3 linked regions of the Homo sapiens genome follow. The protein of the gene in region 2 interacts with the protein of the main gene of each other region in a biochemical or structural test. Each region holds a gene or a part of one and is shown on either strand. Other genes may lie near its edges.

Region 1 (8,171 bases), on a different chromosome or scaffold from region 2:
CCCGGGGCCGGCCTGGTGTCCGGGGCCGAGGTGACACCGTGGGCTGGGGGGGCGGTGGAGCCCGGGGCCGGCCTGGTGTCCGGGGCCGAGGTGACACCGTGGGCTGGGGGGGCGGTGGAGCCCGGGGCCGGCCTGGTGTCCGGGGCCGAGGTGACACCGTGGGCTGGGGGGGCGGTGGAGCCCGGGGCCGGCCTGGTGTCCGGGGCCGAGGTGACACCGTGGGCTGGGGGGGCGGTGGAGCCCGGGGCCGGCCTGCTCTCCGGGGCCGAGGTGACACCGTGGGCTGCTCTCGCGGTGGAGCCCGGGGCCGGCCTGCTCTCCGGGGCCGAGGTGACACCGTGGGCTGGGGGGGCGGTGGAGCCCGGGGCCGGCCTGGTGTCCGGGGCCGAGGTGACACCGTGGGCTGGGGGGGCGGTGGAGCCCGGGGCCGGCCTGGTGTCCGGGGCCGAGGTGACACCGTGGGCTGGGGGGGCGGTGGAGCCCGGGGCCGGCCTGGTGTCCGGGGCCGAGGTGACACCGTGGGCTTGGGGGGCGGTGGAGCCCGGGGCCGGCCTGGTGTCCGGGGCCGAGGTGACACCGTGGGCTGCGGGCGCGGTGTAGCCCGGGGCGGGCCTTGTGTCCGGGGCCGAGGTGACACCGTGGGCTGGGGGGGCGGTGGAGCCCGGGGCGGGACTGGTGTCCGGGGCCGAGGTGACACCGTGGGTTGGGGGGGCGGTGGAGCCCGGGGCCGGCCTGGTGTCCGGGGCCGAGGTGACACCGTGGGCTGGGGGGGCGGTGGAGCCCGGGGCCGGCCTGCTCTCCGGGGCCGAGGTGACACCGTGGGCTGCGGGCGCGGTGGAGCCCGGGGCCGGCCTGCTCTCCGGGGCCGAGGTGACACCGTGGGCTGCGGGCGCGGTGGAGCCCGGGGCCGGCCTGGTGTCCGGGGCCGAGGTGACACCGTGGGCTGGGGGCGCGGTGGAGCCCGGGCCAGAACTGCTTTCCGGGGCCGTGGTGACTCCGTGGGCTGCGGGCGCGGTGGAGCCCGGGGCCGGCCTGCTCTCTGGGGCCGAGGTGACACCGTGGGCTGCGGGCGCGGTGGAGCCCGGGGCGGAACTCTCCGGGGCCGAGGTGACACCGTGGGCTGGGGGGGGGGGGGAGCCCGGGGCCGGCCTGGTGTCCGGGGCCGAGGTGACACCGTGGGCTGGGGGGGCGGTGGAGCCCTGGGGCCGGCCTGGTGTCCGGGGCCGAGGTGACACCGTGGGCTGGGGGGGCGGTGGAGCCCGGGGCCGGCCTGGTGTCCGGGGCCGAGGTGACACCGTGGGCTTGGGGGGCGGTGGAGCCCGGGGCCGGCCTGGTGTCCGGGGCCGAGGTGACACCGTGGGCTGCGGGCGCGGTGGAGCCCGGGGCGGGCCTGGTGTCCGGGGCCGAGGTGACACCGTGGGCTGGGGGGGCGGTGGAGCCCGGGGCGGGCCTGGTGTCCGGGGCCGAGGTGACACCGTGGGCTGGGGGGGCGGTGGAGCCCGGGGCCGGCCTGGTGTCCGGGGTCGAGGTGACACCGTGGGCTTGGGGGGCGGTGGAGCCCGGGGCCGGCCTGGTGTCTGGGGGGGCGGTGGAGCCGGGGCCGGCCTGGTGTCCGGGGTTGGAAAACTGGGCTGGGGGGGCGGTGGAGCCCGGGGCCGGCAGGGGTCCGGGGCCGAGGTGACACCGTGGGCTGGGGGGGCGGTGGAGCCCGGGGCCGGCCTGGTGTCCGGGGCCGAGGTGACACCGTGGGCTTGGGGGGCGGTGGAGCCCGGGGCCGGCCTGGTGTCCGGGGCCGAGGTGACACCGTGGGCTGCGGGCGCGGTGGAGCCCGGGGCGGGCCTGGTGTCCGGGGCCGAGGTGACACCGTGGGCTGGGGGGGCGGTGGAGCCCGGGGCGGGCCTGGTGTCCGGGGCCGAGGTGACACCGTGGGCTGGGGGGGCGGTGGAGCCCGGGGCCGGCCTGGTGTCCGGGGCCGAGGTGACACCGTGGGCTTGGGGGGCGGTGGAGCCCGGGGCCGGCCTGGTGTCCGGGGCCGAGGTGACACCGTGGGCTGCGGGCGCGGTGGAGCCCGGGTCCGTCCTTCTCTCCGAGGGCCGAGGTGACATCGTAGACTGCGGGCGCGGTGGAGCCCGGGTCCGGCCTGCTCTCCGAGGCCGAGGTGACACCGTAGACTGGGGGGGCGGTGGAGCCCGGGGCCGGCCTGGTGTCCGGGGCCGAGGTGACACCGTGGGCTGGGGGGGCGGTGGAGCCCGGAACCGGCCTGGTGTCCGGGGCCGAGGTGACACCGTGGGCTGGGGGGGCGGTGGAGCCCGGGGCCGGCCTGGTGTCCGGGGCCGAGGTGACACCGTGGGCTTGGGGGGCGGTGGAGCCCGGGACCGACCTGGTGTCCGGGGCCGAGGTGACACCGTGGGCTGCGGGCGCGGTGGAGCCCGGGGCGGACCTGGTGTCCGGGGCCGAGGTGACACCGTGGGCTGGGGGGGCGGTGGAGCCCGGGGCGGGCCTGGTGTCCGGGGCCGAGGTGACACCGTGGGCTGGGGGGGCGGTGGAGCCCGGGGCCGGCCTGGTGTCCGGGGCCGAGGTGACACCGTGGGCTTGGGGGGCGGTGGAGCCCGGGGCCGGCCTGGTGTCCGGGGCCGAGGTGACACCGTGGGCTGGGGGGGCGGTGGAGCCCGGGGCTGGCTTGTTGTCCGGGGCTGAGGTGACATCGTGGGCTGGCGGGGTGGTGGAGCCCAGGGCTGGCCTGGTGACTGGGACCGAGGTGACATCCTGTCCCCAGGTGGCAGCTGAACCTGAAGCTGGTTCCGTGGCCGGGGCCAGAGTGACATCCTGTCCCTGAGTGGTGGAGGAGCCTGAACCGGGGCTGTGGCTGGAGAGTACGCTGCTGGTCATACTCACAGCATTCTTCTCAGTAGAGCTGGGCACTGAACTTCTCTGGGTAGCCGAAGTCTCCTTTTCTCCACCTGGGGTAGAGCTTGCATGACCAGAACCCGTAACAACTGTTGCGGGTTTAGGGGCTGTGGTAGCTGTAAGAAGTTAAAGTCATAGGGTTGGGTCTTTATGAAGGAAAAATAAGAGCAAGAAGAAAATATAAGCTCTGGCCACCAGAGAAATAATACCAGGAGGACTGGGGAGTGGGCAGCCTCAGTAACCCCTGGGTTGGCCGCCTCCTTCCCTGCAGCAGCCTCCTTCTCTCTGCCCATAGGCCTTGGCTCATGGCCCCTGCATTTCTTCCCCTCTTAAGCCTTCCCTCTCCCTACTCTCTTCCCCCTAGACTTCTCTACAGGACATTTGCTTGCCCCTGGTACCCACTCTCAGGGTTGGGGGCAACTCTTCTCAGCCTGTCCTTAGCCTCTCCCTCCTTCTGGCACAGACAGGGCAGCCTCTGTCTGCAATTCTTACCTTAACTTCATGGTGCCATCTGCCAGGGAGCAAAACCCACAGAAAGACCACGAAGACCACCTAAGCAGGGCAGCCCACTCCCCACCTCGTGCCCCTCACCTGTAAGCACTGTGAGGAGCAGCAGCAGGAAGAAAGGAGACTGGGTGCCCGGTGTCATGGTGGTGGTGAAATGGGTGGGGAGGGGGCAGAACAGATTCAGGCAGGCGCTGGCTGCTTGAGAGGTGGAGCGGGCACAGGCGCCTACCGCTTTATACCGGTCCCCCCACTCCCCGCCCGCCCGCCCTAGGCACAGCCGGAGCAGGTGACAGGTGACAAAACCCCGCCCCCTCCCCTACCTCCTACCTCTTCCTCCTCCTCCCCAACCATTCCTGGGTAGGGTACAAGGGCTCTAATCGCTCAACCCCCTGACTACCCGTTTGTTCTCCAGCTGGCCTCCCCCTTTCACCAACCACTCCCTGGCTCCGGGGGAGGGGGGAGGGGCAGTCTGGAACTTGGGGCCCCTGGGCTCTAGTTTTAGCCTCAGGGCAACAACTAACGTGGGGATGGGGAACAAAGCCAGCTAGGTCGAGGTCCTGTACAGCAAGGTCGGGAAGCCCACCCCTAGGTCTCCCACTCCACTTCCCCGCCCTCCCCGGGTCCACTGAAGCAGAGCGGGGCCGAGAAATAAGAGGGCTGGATAATGAGTGGACTAGGTGCTAGTTTTGGGCTCCCTCCCCCCACCACTTCCCGGAATAGCCCCACCCTTCTAACCGCTCCCTGTCCCGTTCCACACGCAGTTCTACCCTGAAACCCACAGTCCCCGCCCCAGCCGGACTTTCCAGCAGCCTGGGTTCCCTCCTTGGAGAAAGCCAAGGAGGGAGTGGGGGAAGAAATTTCCACTTAAGGGAGTAAACCTGGGCTCCGATGAACCCTAGGGTCCTTCCTTGCCACTCTCCACCACTGGCCAGGAGCTCCTCCCGCCCTCTAGTGGTCACCGGGAGCCTTGCGGGGCTGGGCCGCGCAAGCTGAGGGGCCGCTCGGACCGGGCGGAGAGGAGTAAGGGCAGCGCTGCCTAAGTGAGGCAGCGAGAGCCCGCGAGAGGGAAGCAGGGCCCGGGAGAGAAGGGTCACTGCCGTGGCCAGGGAGGGAGGAACGCACAGCATGGTGGACGGCTGGGAGCTTTAGGAGGGGGCACTCCGGGACGCGTGGTGGTGGCGTCTGGAGGAAATGGAGCTAAGCGGGTGGGGTCCTGAGGTATGTGGAAGGGGCACCGAGGTATGTGGGAGAGGACGTTGGAACGTGGGCGGGGGAGTTGGACACGTTCTGTGTGGGCCGTTATGTACTTAAGAGGCAGATCGGGCGTGGCACGGTGGCTCACGCCCGTAATCCCAACACTTTGGAAGGCCGAGGCGAGTGGATCACAAGGTCAGGGGTTCAAGACCAGCCTGGCCAAGATGGTGAAACCTCGTCTCTACTAAAAACTACAAAAATTAGCCGAGCGTGGTGGCGGGCGCTGTAACCCCAGCTACTCAGGAGGCTGAGGCAGGAGAATCGCTTGAACCCGGGAGGCGGAGGTTGCAGTGAGCCGAGATCGCGCCATTGCACTCCAGCCTGGGCGACAGAGCAAGACTCCGTCTCAAAACAAAAAAGGGGGGGGCAGAGAGTAGGTGGGGTGACAGAATGGGATTTACGGACACAGAACTATCCTTTGGGGAGCAGAGTGGTATTGGGGACAGGTAGGCACGTAGCGGGGGGCAAAAGCACACGTGAGGTGCGTAATGCGCGACAGCCAAGAGGTGTGTGCGGCAGCAGTGCACGAGGGGAGGAAGCTATCCCAGGCCGCGGCAGCACGTGGAACTTGGGTCCCGCAGTCGCAGGCTGCGCTCTAGGCCGACGGAAGCAGTTCCGCCTGTATTCAGAAAACAGTTCTCAGCCCCAAAGACACAGGTTGGAAAGAACACTTTAAAAACACTTCGGCGAGGCACGGGATTGGAGCGCATCAGATCAGCAGGCGAGAGACCACAGCTCTCGCCCGCGCGCCGCGCGGCGCCCGAGGCGCAGCTTTGTGTGCGGCGAGACCCTGGGGCAGGCGCTGGGCGGGGTGGGGACATCTGACGTCAGCGCGCCCGGGAGCGCGGGCCGGGGAGGCGGGGAGCCCCCCAACTCGCAGGCCGGAGAAAACACGAGTAGCTAGGTGGGCGGCCCCAAACCTCAACTCCCGGCATTGCCAAGCAACAGCCATTCAGTTCGGTTGCTGGGACACGCGTCACCATGGCGACGGCTCCGCGCCGCGCAGTCTGAGTACTTAAAGAGCAAGCGCGCGCAACGCCCGGGCGTCGGAAAGCGGCCTTCTGGGACTCCGCAAACTCCCGTTCTCCCTCCCCCCTCCCCCTTGCCATTCCCTTTGCCTTCCGGGCGCCAAGTCTCTCTGGCCTCCAAGGTGAACCCAACTCCCCAGCGCGCCCCGGGTTCCCGGGTCGGGCCGGCTTCAGGCGGTGGGGAGCGGGATCCCGGGCCCCGGGCGGGCGGGAGGGACGGGACGCGGTGCAGTGTTGTTTTTTCCCCCGCCAATATTGCACTCGTCCCGGCCTCCGGCCCCCCCGGCCCCCCGGCCTCCCCGCTACCCCTAGCGGGGCAGCCCCCGCCCTCCTGGCTCTCCATCCCGGCGGATCTTTGATAGACTGGAGTGTCGCCGCTGCCACCGTGAGTAAGTGGGTCTGGGAGGACTTCGGGCATCCTCCCTCAGGCACCCTATCCTTCACTTAACTCCATCCAGCACCTCCCCCACCCGCATCCCCAAATCAGCCAAACTTCCCCTAGATCCCTAACTTCCACCCTCCCAGGCTTTCTCTTCTACTCGCCGATTCCTTCCACTTCCCCACCCTATCCCGGAAAATCCCTAAAATAAGCAGTTGCACTGGCTTAGAAAACAACCAAAACTTTATGGCAATGTGCTGTCATCTTTCCTGGGGTTAGTGCCTGAGTAATACCCCTTGAAAACTTCTCATCCCCTGAAGGGTGGGGTGACCACCCCTCTGGGACTGAACTCCTTTTGGGAGCCAGAGAAGGGTCTGTGGTTGGCTGAGGGGCTGTAGCTTAGACCTCAGGGTCTCCAGGATGGACCCCAAGGCCAAAGGGTCTAAAATTCTGAATTCTGAATCTGGTGGCCTCCTCCTCACACCCTTCCCTGGAGCAGCTGCCTCCGGAATGGCTCAAAGTCCTCAGGCACTGTGTCTGAAGAAGGGGAAATAAGTAAGGTCAGAGGATGTGGCTCTCCCACAAGGCATGAAGGATTAGGTTGATCTCAATCAGCCACCTCACCATTGCATCGATACTGGAGATTGGACCAAATTATGTTTTCTTGGGAGAAGCAGAATACACCAAGACGCCCCCCTCGCATGGATGTGTCAATGATCACCCCAGAATCCGCCACAAGCTGGGGTCCCTCATAGAGCTTCACCCTGTCCAGGATTCCAGGATAGGAGTATCCATTGGTGCTAGGGTGCCAGTGGGCACTGTGCCACCATGCCTGGGGCCTTGCTTTTCCCCAGCCCCCCTTGAGCTCACCAGGCCTGAGAGAGAAGGGAGGGAGGGAAAGGGAGGCAGGAAGGAGAGGGAAGGGGGGTGCTTTTCTCAGGCCTGGGGCCCCTAGCTCTTTGTCCAGCTCCTTTTGCATCTCAAAGCACCAGCCGCATTCCAAGCGAGGATTGGGTTGCCATGACAATAAGCACAATGGGCTGGGGGGTGAAGTCACCCGCTTCCCAGGCTCTAGTCCACCCCCTTTTATCCCCTGTCCTGGCACCCCACAGCCCCAGGCACCTTAAAGGGGAACCAACCCAGGTTCCTGGACTCTGGGCTCTTGGCCATGGAAAGTCCAGCCTCTAAGCAGACCCATTTCCCCTCCCTTCCTGTTCATCTCCACCAACTAGGGCTACTTGTTGGAGAGAAATGCAAAGTTGTGGACAAAGTGTTGAACCGAGGCCTGTGAAGTCAGGGCCTTGATTTTCTCTTCTGTAAATGATGATGCCTTCCAGGTCAGATGATCCCTATCCACGTTGATAAGACAGGTTCCAGGTCATACCAACTAAGGGACCAGATGTGATGTGCCCCTTCACAGATTGGCCTGGGTTTGGAGGCTTCTGGAGAACTGTAAAGGGCATCTAACCCAATGCCCTCATTTTACAGACGGGAAAATGGGTCATGGAGGAGTGACTTCACCAACATCACTCATAGGTGCTTGTGTCCGTGGTGAGAAGGGTGATGGAGAGAAGTGGCTGCAGTTCCCACCCATGGAGAGGTCACTGGTGAATCCCAGCTAAAGAGGAAGGACAGGCCCGGCCTGAGTCCCACAGGTGGGCTCAGCCCCTCTCCTTACCGAATGTAGCCAACTTGAGGCCGGTGCAGAAGCTGCCAGCGATAGGAGGTCTTGTCCCGCCAGCCCACATTTCGTGGGTCTGTCCACAGCAGTCGTACCTGATCAGGGGTGTGGCCAGTATGCCACAGGGCATTTCGGAGGTGCTCACCTGGGCCAGACACTGATGTCACTGCCTAGGAGACATTGGCAAAGACAGTGGGTCAACTGCAGAACTGGAGTGAGGGGAGACAACAGGTCGGTAAGTGCAGGTGGGAAAGGGATTCAAGGCGGTCATGAAAATGCCCTGGGGCCCCAGAGAGCCGGCCTCCAAGCCAGATGTCTGGGTAAGAGGGTTCCCAGTCAAGCAGTGGGGGAGGCCCTGGGGCTGCAGAGGAGAGCTTTGGGAAAGGGCCCTGGGTTGCGGAATCTGAGCAGCTGG
Region 2 (4,697 bases):
TTTCACACCTTTATGAAAAAGTTGCTCTCCTCCCACTCGGATCTCCAACGCTGTCTCTGAAGAGTCTTTAAATGCCTGTGTATTATTCTGTATTAATCTGTATTTATATCCCTATTCCTGTAACAGGGTTAACTAACTTTAGCTTTGTATTAAGTAGTTAGGCCTTGACAGCTGCTAGAGCAAGTGCTATTTTTCCTAAGCGTCTTGGCTATTATTCACCCTTGGTACTTCCAGAGCCACCTTGTTGAACTGGATTAACTCTCACATTAAGTTTTTAAACTTCAAAAATAAAATACAATGAATTAGCAAAGCTCTGAAAACATTCTCTGGTTTTAAAAAGTTGTTCTTTCTGTAATTGAAACACCGTGCGGTGGCTCTTTATGTTAAAAGCTGAATTCACTGAAGATCTTCACGGTGTTAACCTACCAATAGCCCTAGGCTTCTTGAAATACTGGCTGGTTTGGTTTATCACACATGAGACAGAACCTGAGACCTACCACATCATCAGCTATGTGAATGTTTCTTTTCAAACCCTAATTACATTTTAGACCACAATGAATTCATTTTTGCAAAGCAAGGGCATTCACAAAAAGGCCTCCCCAGATGAAGCTGATTTTTAACGAAAAAGAACTGAATGTATGTTTTTCTCATAATTAATAGTCACTATCAATCATCATCAAAATAAAAACAGTAAATCAGAAAGAGCTCTCCCTAAAGACAAAACACTTCTTTCTTTTACTTTTTAAAAGACCAAAACACAAGTCTTAACAAACAGGTCTACCTGAAGAGATGAGATGAACTAAGCTTGTCAGACCTACCACCGGGATGATAGGATCATCTGGCAGGTACTGTGGAAGGCTCATTCTGGTTCTGATTATGTTCAGATAAACATCAACACTTAAACCTATTTAATTTATTTAATTATTATTAGTTCAAAGTCCAGTTGAAGGAATTCCCCTCTCCCAATGAGTCACACTTGGGTGAAGGTGATTCAAATCCAAATCCAGGTAGGGGTAGTTACTATTTATTTCATTACTTTAATGGAATCAAATCATCTGAGGGGGATTGGGGTAGAGATAGATAGATGGATAGTCTGCTTGGCTTTCTCCCACCAAAGCCCAGAACTAATCACAATGTGCAAGGCTGAAACACTTTTTTAGGGGTCCAGCGTAATCCAGGGCCAAATGCTAAAGAAACTTGGCAAATTGCATCTAGAGAAGTAGGGCCCTCTCTATCGCTACAACAAATTACTTCACTATGTATCTATCTATCTCAGGATAAAGTTCAGGATAAAGTTGAGTTGGATAAACTTACTTACCACCCTCACAAACCATTTATTAATGACAAGAAAAAAAGAAAGAGTGACACAATCGAATGAATTAAAAGTTTAATTCTGAACCATTTTTTATAACCGCATTTTCTCTTGAAGCATCGTATCACAGCAGGTTACAACAACTTTGGGATAAAAGGCAACTGGTAAACTGTCCAAAACAAGGTTCCAAATAACACCTCTTACTGATTTACCCTACCCATACATATCCCAAATAGTTTTTGATCAAAAACATGAAATAGATCCACCTGCTTATTTTAAGCATATTAAAAAGGAAACTAATTGGACCATTTTCTATTTGTCTATTTTATACAAAAAGGCTACACAATTGTTACACTTTATTCAGATTACAATTAATTAGAGTGATTATGAATTAGTGTTCTACACCATTACTCAATTCTTAAAAATTAGAAATTGCTGTAGCAGTATTCACTATAACTTAACACTACGAGAGACTTAAAAAACAGTTACTGCAAAAAAAAAAAAAAAAAAAAAAAAAGAGCTACTTCAAAGCAAGCAAAGTCAGTACCATTACAGATATTCTTAAAAAAAAAAAAAAAAAAATTTAACAAGCAAGGCTAGGGTTTGATAAATTCCATCTTGTGATCCATTCTTGTGCATTCTTCACTTCTTGAGTCACTCCCAAAATCCATTTGTATTGTTACTCCTCGACCAAAAAGGACCAGAACAAAAAGTTTACTTCAATTGTTCCCATAGGAAACTCAGCTTGGTTAGTGTGTCAGGCACTTTCTGAGATACCAGCCCACCCCTCGAGCCCTCTCAGCAACTCTACAGGCCAATCACAATGCAAGTTCAGACAATACAGCTGTATAAAGAGAGAAAGGCTGCTATTAATGTTTAAAACAGCAAATGTTACTCATTTGAGTATTAAGTTGCAAAAGCTGTGGCAAAAAACATTAAAGTTAATAACTTCCACACATGATCACATAACAACCAGAAATCTGAGAACATTCCAATGTTCCAAGACATCTCCTTTCAAAGTATATACCTGTTTTTGTGGCAGATTTACAAATAGCCTAAACCACTCCCACCCTACCAACCAAGTCTTTCTGAAGTTCTGTAGGCAGAGTAAAAGTATTTTACCCAAACTGGCTTTTTAAAACTTCTTACCTAAAGGATGATTTACAGGTCAGTATCAAACCAGGCCAGCTGATTGCTGTCACCTGGAGGCAGCCCATCCATGAGGTCCTGGGCATGCCCCAGATCTGGCAGCCCATCAACTGGATAGTCAGCACCAGGGTGGTGGCCACCCATCTCATGTTCCATCATGGGGTCCATACCCAAGGCATCCTGGCCATATCCACCAGAGTGAAAAGAACGATAGCTAGGATCTAGAAGAGTCAGGGTGTCAACAAAATAGGCAAGAAGGAAGGCAAAAGAGAGAGGAGAGAAGCAGACATAGACGTTAACACTGAGGTTAGGGCATCCAAAGTTCAGCAGCAAACTTGTCAGAAAACAACGCTTTCTAGCCTCTTCAACCTCCAGCTTTCTTTAGCCAAGTAATTACTCAGTGCCAGGCCACCCATGAGACTACACAAATAACATCTATTTCCATCAGACAGGCACACCAGCAGGGCCTAGTCACATCATTAGTCTAACCCTGAACACTCTGCATTTACCCCTGTCAAGAGACTTGGGGTTCCCGAGGAGAAGAAGCAGGAATCTACTGTGTGACCACCTAGGCAGTGAGAAGTCATGGGAAGGAGGATTAAGACAATAATGAGGTCTGGCAGGTGTAATCTATCTTGACAAAAAGGCCAAGTGACACCCACAAAAGTACTAAGGAAAGGCACTATTTCCATGAAACCTCAACATATTTTATCTTAGGGTTGACATGTTATTTCTCACAGTAAGAATCTGCGCTTTAGTGGTTTCATAATTAGGTAGAAGCAGATGCGGTTATAAATGTAAGACAGTTATAATTGTTAGTGGTCTATGCCATCCTCCATGTTCATTACCCAGATTTAAATTAGCTTTTCAAGAAAACCCTGATGATAATGCAACTATGTAAAAACCCACCCGAGATCTGAGCCTAGAAACAGGAGTTTTCCTATCTTCCTTGGGTAGCTTGTAGACAAAGGTATTATGAGTCCTCTGGCCAAAAAGAGAATAAAAAGCCAGGTAAATTGTAACATCCTGCACTGCAGAGGCCTAGCAGTAGCATGTATTTGTTGGTGGTGTAATCCTACTGCTACTCATTGTGTGGCTCTGAATTCCCTGTGCTCCATTAAAGATACTGTTGCTGACTGGAATTTAAGAACTGCTTTTAATTGAAGCCACTACTTTTCTGCCAACACTGGTTTCCCAGATGAGCAAACCGGCTCTTCTGATAAAAGTTTTAGAACTTTAGCTTGATCTGGAGTTAATCGAGAAATATGAGACACATACCATCCTGGCGATATCCAAGGGGTTCTCCCTGGGCACCAATATCAAGTCCAAGATCAGCAGTCTAGATAAACATGCACAAAGCAAGGAAGAATAGAAAGCAAAATGAAAATTCTCAAAAGTACACTAATTTTTTTTAAAGCATACTTTCAGATTACAAAAGGAACAAGTAACTCCAACATTACACAAATGCTTAGAAAATGGAAGTTCTTCAAAACTCCACACCTCAAAGATACATTTTTTTTTCTCTTTGCACCTCACATTAAAAATACTCACTGACTTGTTCTTTCAACAAATATTATATTAAGCACCTATTATGTGCTGCCAGGCACTGTTCTACATGCTAGAGATATAGCAGTTTAAAAAAAAAAAAAAAAAAAAAGGCAAAATGCCTACCCACAAACAGGAGCTGCTGATAGGATGTGTTATATGAAAGAAAAGTTTTAGCCTGAGCAGCTGGACAGACAAAGCTGACATTAACTAAGACAGAGAAGACAGTGAAAACAGGTTTGTGGAAGGGGGTAGGTGGAGAAAGTTAAGGGCTCAAGTTGGAACATGTTAATAAGATGCCTATTAAAAACCCAAGTAACACACTACTCACTGGTAATTTGCTTTTTTTTTTTTTTTTTTTTTGTGTTGGAGTCTGGCTCTGTCACTGAGTGCAGTCTGTTAACTCCTGGGTTCAAGCAATCCTCCTGCCCCCGTCTCCCCAGTAGCTAGGACTATAGGCATCCATCTCCATGCCCAGCTAAAGATGGGGTTTCACTATGTTGCCCAGGCTGATCTTAAACTCCGGTCTCAAGAGCTGCATCGTTGTAAACCTAACAATCTCTCTTTCCATTCACTCAACAAACATAATCCACTGTATGTCTGTGTACCATCAATGATCTCTATAGAATGGATAAAATATCAGGATGTTCTAGTTTTATTAGAAACAATGTTTCAAGGAACCACCTGTACT
Region 3 (8,056 bases), on a different chromosome or scaffold from region 2:
GTGCAGTGGCATGATCTTGGCTCACTGCAACCTCCACTTTCCAGGTTCAAGCAGTTCTCCTGCCTCAACCTCCCGAGTAGCTGGGACTACAGGCATGTGCCACCACACCTGGCTCATTTTTGTATTTTTAGTAGAGACAGGGTTTCACCATGTTGGCCAGGATGGTCTTGATCTCTTGACCTCGTGATCCGCCCACCTTGGCCTCCCAAAGTGCTGGATTACAGGTGTGAGCCACCGTGCCTGGCCTAAATAAATAATTTCGTAAGCATATACAATCCACTTCCCACTAAGAATTAGGGTCAAAGACATTCTATTTGAACACTTGCAATTACCTAGATCTAGTTGGCCTTTGGTTGATAGATCCTCTGCCTCGGAATTTCATTGAGTTTTTTTCTTCCTTGCCTTTGGGTGTCTGCTTGCCACTTCCTAAGAATTCTTGTAGAAGGCAGTTTCCTCTACTTGCCCAAGAGCACTGAGTACTTCTCTACTATCCTATTATTAGCTTCTATCTCTTAGTGTAACTTCAAAACTTTTAAGAGCAGTGAAGTTGGTCAGGGACATGTGGCCACTTATTATTACCTAAAGAAAACATTTGTTCCCTGTTCATTTTATTTTAGGGGCCAGATCTAACATTGTAGTGTCTTTCACCAGATAGACTTCTACTGTTTCATCAAACTCCCTTCTTAACTAGACCTAGACTTTCTACTCCAATCAGGCTAATCTACTTACTGAATGTGACATATTTATTCCTAGTTCCATACCTTTGCACATGCCCTACTCTCCACTAATTATACTTAAAAGTCCAAAAATTTTTTCTTTAGTAACAGACTTAGGTACTGCTAAGCAGTTATTAACACAATATTCCTTAGTTTTCATATGTTGGTTATTCATATGTCTATTTATATGTATATTTATTTTTATGTATGTTACTATGTAAATATGGTTTGCAGTTGTTTTTGTGTGGAATCTTGTCTTTCCGTATAAGTTGTAAGCTCCTTGAGAGCAGGATCCATGTCATTCCTTTATTTTTATAAATTATTCCCCCTATCATTCCTTTACAGTGCCTAGTGCTACTCATTATGTGTTCATTGAATTTGACTGACATAGTTAAAAACTTAAGGTTTATTTTAGACTTTCAAGGAAACAAAAGACTTTAGAGTCCTCTCTCTGTAATTCTGCCCCACTCATTTGTTTACCCTGGGTTTTATACAGTTCTCTTCCTTCTCCCCTCCCACCTTTCCCTGGCTTTTTGCCTCCATTCCATGAGGCATACAGTAAGGCTGCCTGCTAGTAAGCAGTCACATAAGTGGGTACCTATCCAGCCATTCTCTTTTCAGAGCATATAATACTATCTTAGCCAAACTTGCCTTTGCTTCACTCATCATGCAGCCTTCTGGGTTGGTTGCTATATATATCTTTTTTCCTTGATGTCCCGTTCTCTTCCACAGCCCTGAGGTCTTACGAATTTTTCTACTTTCTTTTTGCTGTTGATGAATTGTTTCATTATTAAATATATGCATGTATCAAAGCTATTCATACTCCATGTGTCATTTCTAATTGTATCCCAAACATTAGTAGATACTCTCCTCTCAGGGAATTAAATCAAAGATAATGAAGAAGCCTCTTTGGGATTCATGCTATACTCGATTCTGACCCCAGTAGTAGTAGTAATAGTTGACAGTGCACCACAGGAAGTTGGAAGACATTTGGGGTATTGCTTTGGTTATGCTTTTGTTTTGTTTTTAAAATCCTATCTGATTCCAAAAAGGATTTGAAGCTGTTGAACTTGGAGTTAGCCTGCCCCCTTACCTCTGGGCGAAAACTAAAGTAATAAAAACTAGTTTCTGTACAGAAGGTTTTTTTTTTGTTTTTTTTTTTTTTACTACCCAAAAAAACAATCTTTAGCAATTGAGAAGCATTAGAGGATTGGTCAAAGACAGCATTCTGCCTAGAGCTACTGCTTTCAGAGTCAATAAAGGATACCATTTTGATATTTTGGAGCACAGTTTTTTAATATTAATGCCCATATCTTGTTCTATTAACCAAGCCGACTTATGACCTTCTGTACTTGGGTATTGCACCAATTGTAAGGGAAGCATGAGAAAAAAAAGTATCTGGGCAAAATCATCTGTATTCTGAGTGAAGTGGTCATGAAGAATTATAAAAAGTGGATATGCCACCCCATATGAAGAATGGTAGTTATGAAATAATGTCCACTTTTTTTTTTTTTCCATCTATAGTCTTACCAATGTCCATTGGTTTTTGAAGGCCAAGACCATTGGAAATCATACTAAGATCAGTGTAGGTACCAGAAATTGGTTCAGGCACACCTGTTCCCATTTCCATAATATCTATAGCTCCTTTGATGACAGGTCTATTCTGTACCAGATGGATAATAGGCTCTCATCCTAGAAACTATTAATAATTAAGGTTATATCTGTATATGCATTTACAGACAAACACATTGTTCTGATAAATCTTAATACTAACATCAAATTGATATAATGGCAGCAGTAGCCAGGAGAGAATTTGGTTGACAGATTTTTTTTTTTTTTTTTTTTGAGACAGAGTTTCCCGCTTGTTGCCCAGGCTGGAGTGCAATGGCATGATCTAGGCTCACCACAACCTCCGCCTCCCGAGTTCAAGTGATTTTCCTGCCTCAGCCTCCTGAGTAGCTGGGGTTACAGGCATGCACCACCACACCCAGCTACTTTTGTATTTTTAGTAGAGACGGGGTTTCTCCATGTTGGTCAGGCTGGTCTTGAACTCCGGACCTTAGGTGATCCACCCGCCTCGGCCTCCCAAAGTGCTGGGATTACAGGCGTGAGCTACCGCGCCTGTCTTGGCTGACAGATTTTGATACACAGGGAAATGTATTTGGCCAAGTCTTTTTTTTTTTTTTTTTTTTTTTTTTTTTTTTTTTGAGATGGAATTTCGCTCTTGTTGCCCAGGCTGGAGTGCAGTGGTGAGATCTTGGCTCACCACAACCTCCGCCTCCTGGGTTCAAGCGATTCTCCTGCCTCAGCCTCCCGAGTAGCTGGGATTATGGGTGTCTGCCACCACGCCCGGCTAATTTTTTTTTGTATCTTTACTAGAGACGGGGTTTCACTATGTTGGCCAGGCTGCTCTCGAACTCCTGACCTCAGGCGATCCACCCGCCTCAGCCTCCCAAAGTGCTGGGATTACAGGCGTGAGCCACTGCGCCCAGCTTAAGGCCGAGTCTTATCACTCATATGACTTCTTGATGTCTCTGAGCTCCTATCATGTAAGACCATGCAATTATGTTACTCCTTGAGAAATTCCTTTAATAATCTGGAAGGATTCCCTCACTCACAACTTTAAAAAAGATTTCTTGGCCAGGAATGGTGGCTCATGTCTGTAATCCCAGCACTTTGGGAGGCCGAGGTGGGCGGATCACTTGAGGTCTGGAGTTCGAAACCAGCCTGACCAACATGGCGAAACCCCGTCTCTACTAAAAATACAAAAATTAGCTGGGCGTGGTGGCGGGAGCCTGTAGTCTCAGCTACTCAGGAAGCTGAGACAGGAGAATTGCTTGAACCCGGGAGGCAGAGGTTGCAGTGAGCCGAGATCGCCCCACTGCACTCCAGCCTGGGTGACCGAGCGAGACTCCATCTCAAAAAAAAAAAAAAAAATTAGGCCTTTAAAAAAAAAAAGGAATTCCTCCTTAAGTCCTGTTCTTGATTTCCAACTGATTCACAGTGCCCCTACTGGAAAATTTGCAGTGAATCCTAAAGCTTAGTAGCACCTATAATAGATACATGTCCTGATATTTTGAGTGAGGTGTCCATAAAGGATTACCCTAGGAAAGTGCAACTTTCACTCTCATTAGAAGAATTAATTTTTGCTTATTTGATTTGTTAAAATTGCTTTACTCCTACAGTTAAGTGAGAGGGTGGTGGTGGTTGTTGCCCGTAACCACATACGGCATTACTCCAGGGTTTCACGTCGTGACTGAGGGGCCTCCTAAGTGTATACAGCAGAGTATGTTCGGGCTGGACCTAGATAGTCGGACAGAACACCGACAGGGTCTTCACATTCTTTAAGCACTCTCACCCAGTCCCGGAGTCCGAGCCAAGATGGCTTCCCAGAAGTAGGTAACTAAGTGTTGTTTTAGTTCACAGCGCCCCCAATGGCGGGGGTCAAAAAAAGATGCCGAGGGGCCTGGCCGCCTGTGAACTGAGTCGTCAGAGGCGAGCCGCCGCCAGATTTTATTTTCAATCAGGCATATTTGTGGTCGCCTACGTACCCTTCTCATCCTCCTAGGACCTTCCACCCTCAAGAGACTTCCTGGATGGCGCTCACACTAGCTCGCTGGAAGAGGCCGGGCTTCGGTGCTGCCATTGGCGGATGGGAGCGCAGGGGGGCGGAGCCTAGGGAGAATGGACTACTAGCAAGCTAGATTGAGGCGAGGGCTGGCCATGCTCCGCCGGAAGGCGCCTTGTTCTCGGAGAGGGTGAGTTGAAACGCTGCCTGGAAAGGAAGTACCAGGACTTGCACAGGTAGGCTTCCCGCTCGCACCCGCTCCTCAGTGCTGGGCCAGGAGTCAGCAAAAGCTGAGGCTCTCAGAGATTTGATTTAAGTAACTCCTTCTCCTCTCTCTTCCACCCCCTGCTCGCCCCCCAGTTGTGAGGGATCAGGTGCGGGGTGATGCTCCGGACTGAACCAGTCTCCTTTGTGAGAGGCCGGGGGAGAGGGTGGCTGCCGGGCCGCGGGGTCCGAGCCGGGCCGAGCCGCGAGGGACTGCTTGGGACGCTGTGGAGTTTTCAGGGCTTGTCATTGCATTACTGGGCGTAGTGTAGATTGGAGGCGGCGCCTTGTTCTCCTCTCTTCAGAGAAGGGAAAACTCCTCGGCCCCGTTTGGTTACTCCATACTTTGGATTCAGAAATAGGTGGTTAGGGTTTTCTACTTCTTTTTATTTTTTTTTCTTCTGTATTTTAATAATAAAGGTGGGTAGGAAAGCATGGGGTAAGCGTAAGCAGATTGTTACTCATTCTCAGGTGTAAGTTCTGTGGGTCTCCTGGCAGTGAAGAGCAGGCTGTTGGAGAATGTTTAGAGATGGTGGGAAGAGAGGAGCTCAAGCCTTGCATCCTCCTTGACAGGTCTGCAGAGCTCACTGGTTTTCCGTTGCATTATGTAAACTCGTCACTGATAGAAGACCCTTCCCCCTGCTTTGGAACGAATGCAGTTTATTTACCTGTCTCTAGTGTCGCAGGGAATTTCCCTGCAGCAGCTGTATAAATGCAGCAGCCTCTTGCTTTTTAAGGGACAGTCTTGAAGCGGTTAGGGTCTTCACAGAAAAGGTATATAGTGGACCCATCTCTTTCGTATGGCTAAGCAAAGTGAGCCAGAAGTCAAAGATTTAGAACTCTGTCTTTTTCTATTAAAGAATAAACAGCGGAGCGCCCCAAACACAAGCCAGGGGAGCTGCCTTATCAGTGTCTGCTGCATCCTACCATCACAGCGGCGTCTACAGATCGTTTCATCTCCATGCTTTTCTGAGTTTGTCGACTCAGTCAAGGATTCTCAGCCTAGGTTAGCATATGCTGAAGTCATCTGGTGTGGGGCACATTACATATCGAAAGTGAGTTTGTGATTTGAATCGTGTCCTGTGTTAGTTAATTAGATCGTGTCTTCTGCTTAGGAATTTCTTTTGTATTGGTCATCCAATAGGTTTCAGAACAAATTCTAGTCAACCTCATAGAGCAAGATATGAGAAACTTATTTCAAGTACTTTGGAATTATCCCAACCCTTAAAAAAAGAGTTATGATAAGAAAAACATTTTCCATGTAAGAAGACCTTCTGCTGCAAGAGAGGCGTGTCAGTGGATCTGAAGGCAAGTGAAAGATATTGGCCAAAGAGAGAGTAGGCAAGTTTGAAGAGACAGGCTTAGGAGAAAGTTTAAAACTGAAATAGTGGCTCACGCTTGTAATCTCAGCACTTTGGGAGGTGGAGGCGGACGGATCACTTGAAGTCAGGAGTTCGAGACCAGCCTGACCAACATGGTGAAACCCCGTCTCTAAAAGTACAAAAAATACAAAAAAAAATTAGCCGGGCATGGTGACGCGTGCCTGTAGTCCCAGCTACATGGGAGGCCAAGGCATGAAAATCGCTTGAACCCTGGAGGTGGAGATTGCAGTGAGCCAAGATCGTGCCCCTGCATTCCGGCCTGGGCGACACAGCCAGAGGATAGCAAAGGAGTAATGGATTGGGATAAGGGATATAATGGAACAGTGTATGAGTACTTGAACAGTTTTTGTATTCTCCATGTTTGATCTGTCCTGTGCATCTGCTCTTTTGGTTTTGTCAGTTTTCTTTTCTTTTCTTTTCTTTTCTTTTCTTTTCTTTTCTTTTCTTTTCTTTTCTTTTTTTTTGAGACGGAGTCTTGCTCTGTCACCCAGGCTGGAGTGCAGTGGCAGGATCTCGGCTCACTGCAACCTCCGCCTCCCAGGTTCAAGTAATTCTCCTGCCTGAGCCTTCCGAGTAGCTGGGATTACAGGCGCCCGCCACCATGCTTGGCTAATTTTTTTTTTTATTTTTAGTAGAGACGGGGTTTCACCATATTGGCTAGGCTGGTCTTGAACTTCTGACCTCGTGATCCTCCCGCCTCGGCCTCCCGAAGTGCTGGGATTACAGGCATGAGCCACTTTTCTAAGCAAAATTACCACTTAAGATTAAGTTGTGGGTGTCAAAACTGTGTTTGCTTACTGAAGAAATAAGATTTGATATTCTCATATGTGAAAGGACTGTAACATTCAGATGAATGCTAAATGCTTTAGTGAACTGTTTGTCTACAGCTCTGGAAGAGTTAAGCTATCTTCTGAGCTTACATTGAGCCTAATACTTGGGAGGAAAACAGAAGACAAACATTTCTCTCGAGTCTCCACTTTCACCTCTAGAATCTCTCTACTTCTGGAGTTGGATTTGAGCCAGTCCTTGATCTGCAGGTCTTCGCATGACCTGTCCTTACATTACTGTGACCATTGTGGTATAATATTTACTATTTTACCTTTAGCATTTGATTCATTGACAGACTATCATGTTTCTTATCTCACTTTAACTTTTTATATCCCCTCTTACATGATCTATGATCTTTTATTCTTTTGTCTCACCAAGTTGGTGATCTTTTCATCTTCCTGTGATTTTGCTCACTTTCCTTTTCACTTAATTCACTGACGTTGTACACTTTTGCTTCTGTTTAGCTGAAACCTTTTAGGGAATGTAATTTCTGTATTTTTAGTAGAGACGGGGTTTCACCATATTGGCCAGGCTGGTCTTTAACTCCTGACCTCGTGAAAATTGAAACCTTTTAGGGTATCTAATTTTCAAGATGTGGTCTTTCTTTGGTACCTAGCACCCAAATGAGAGTTGTCTTTCTTTCTTTCTTAAGAGACGGGGTCTTGCCATCTTGCCCCAGCTGGTCTTGAACTCCTCGGCTCAAGTGATCCACCCACCTTGGCCTCCCGAAGTGCTGGGATTACAGGTGTGGGCCACCACACCCAGCCTGACAGTTGTATTTCTTTGTTTTTTGTTTTCTTTTTTTTTTTTTGAGATGGAGTCTCGCTGTGTCACCCAGGCAGGAATGCAGTGGTGCGATCTTTGCTCACTGAAAGCTCTGCCTCCCAGTTCAAGTGATTCTTCTGCCTCAGCCTTCCGAGTAGCTGGGACTACAGGCGCGCACCACCATGCCCGGCTAATTTTTGTATTTTTAGTAGAGACAGGGTTTCACCATATTGGCCAGGCTGGTCTTTAACTCCTGACCTCATGATCGGCCTGTCTCGGCCACCCAAATCGCTGGGATTACAGGCGTCAGCCACTGCGCCCGGCTGACAGTTGTATTTCTATGTAATGGGATTGTTGTATGAAGTTTTCTTTTTTTTTTTTCTTTTGAGACAAGTCTCCCTGTGTCTCCCAGGCTGGAGCGCAGTGGCGCGATCTCGGCTTACTGCAACCTCCACCTCCTGGGTTCAAGTGATTCTCCTGCTTTAGCTTCCCAAGTAGCTGGGGTTAAGGCGTGTGCCACCACGCCTGGCTAA

Evidence for each region.
Region 1: the proteins of CTNNB1 (region 2) and MUC1 form a complex in vitro, tested with the Homo sapiens proteins (5 studies listed by BioGRID).
Region 3: the proteins of CTNNB1 (region 2) and CHD8 form a complex in vitro, tested with the Homo sapiens proteins (3 studies listed by BioGRID).

The regions. Positions count from the first base shown.
Region 1 is NC_000001.11:155,189,288-155,197,458, forward strand, and holds the start of MUC1 (mucin-1 isoform 10 precursor), read right to left. Parts: upstream 3,629-8,171; 5' UTR 3,557-3,628; coding exon 3,499-3,556; intron 3,024-3,498; coding exon 2,621-3,023; coding exon of another isoform or gene 2,261-2,620; intron 2,020-2,260; coding exon of another isoform or gene 1,694-2,019; intron 1,365-1,693; coding exon of another isoform or gene 1,202-1,364; intron 1,201-1,201; coding exon of another isoform or gene 1,093-1,200; intron 916-1,092; coding exon of another isoform or gene 1-915. Other genes in the region: THBS3 (thrombospondin-3), read right to left, coding at 6,554-6,612, 6,700-6,839, 7,754-7,926. UniProt on the Homo sapiens protein: The alpha subunit has cell adhesive properties. Can act both as an adhesion and an anti-adhesion protein. May provide a protective layer on epithelial cells against bacterial and enzyme attack.
Region 2 is NC_000003.12:41,237,119-41,241,815, reverse strand, and holds the end of CTNNB1 (catenin beta-1), read right to left. Parts: intron 3,801-4,697; coding exon 3,740-3,800; intron 2,683-3,739; coding exon 2,474-2,682; 3' UTR 2,157-2,473; coding exon of another isoform or gene 2,070-2,156; 3' UTR 1,373-2,069; downstream 1-1,372. UniProt on the Homo sapiens protein: Key downstream component of the canonical Wnt signaling pathway.
Region 3 is NC_000014.9:21,452,496-21,460,551, reverse strand, and holds the start of CHD8 (chromodomain-helicase-DNA-binding protein 8), read left to right. Parts: upstream 1-4,428; 5' UTR 4,429-4,520; intron 4,521-8,056. UniProt on the Homo sapiens protein: ATP-dependent chromatin-remodeling factor, it slides nucleosomes along DNA; nucleosome sliding requires ATP. Acts as a transcription repressor by remodeling chromatin structure and recruiting histone H1 to target genes.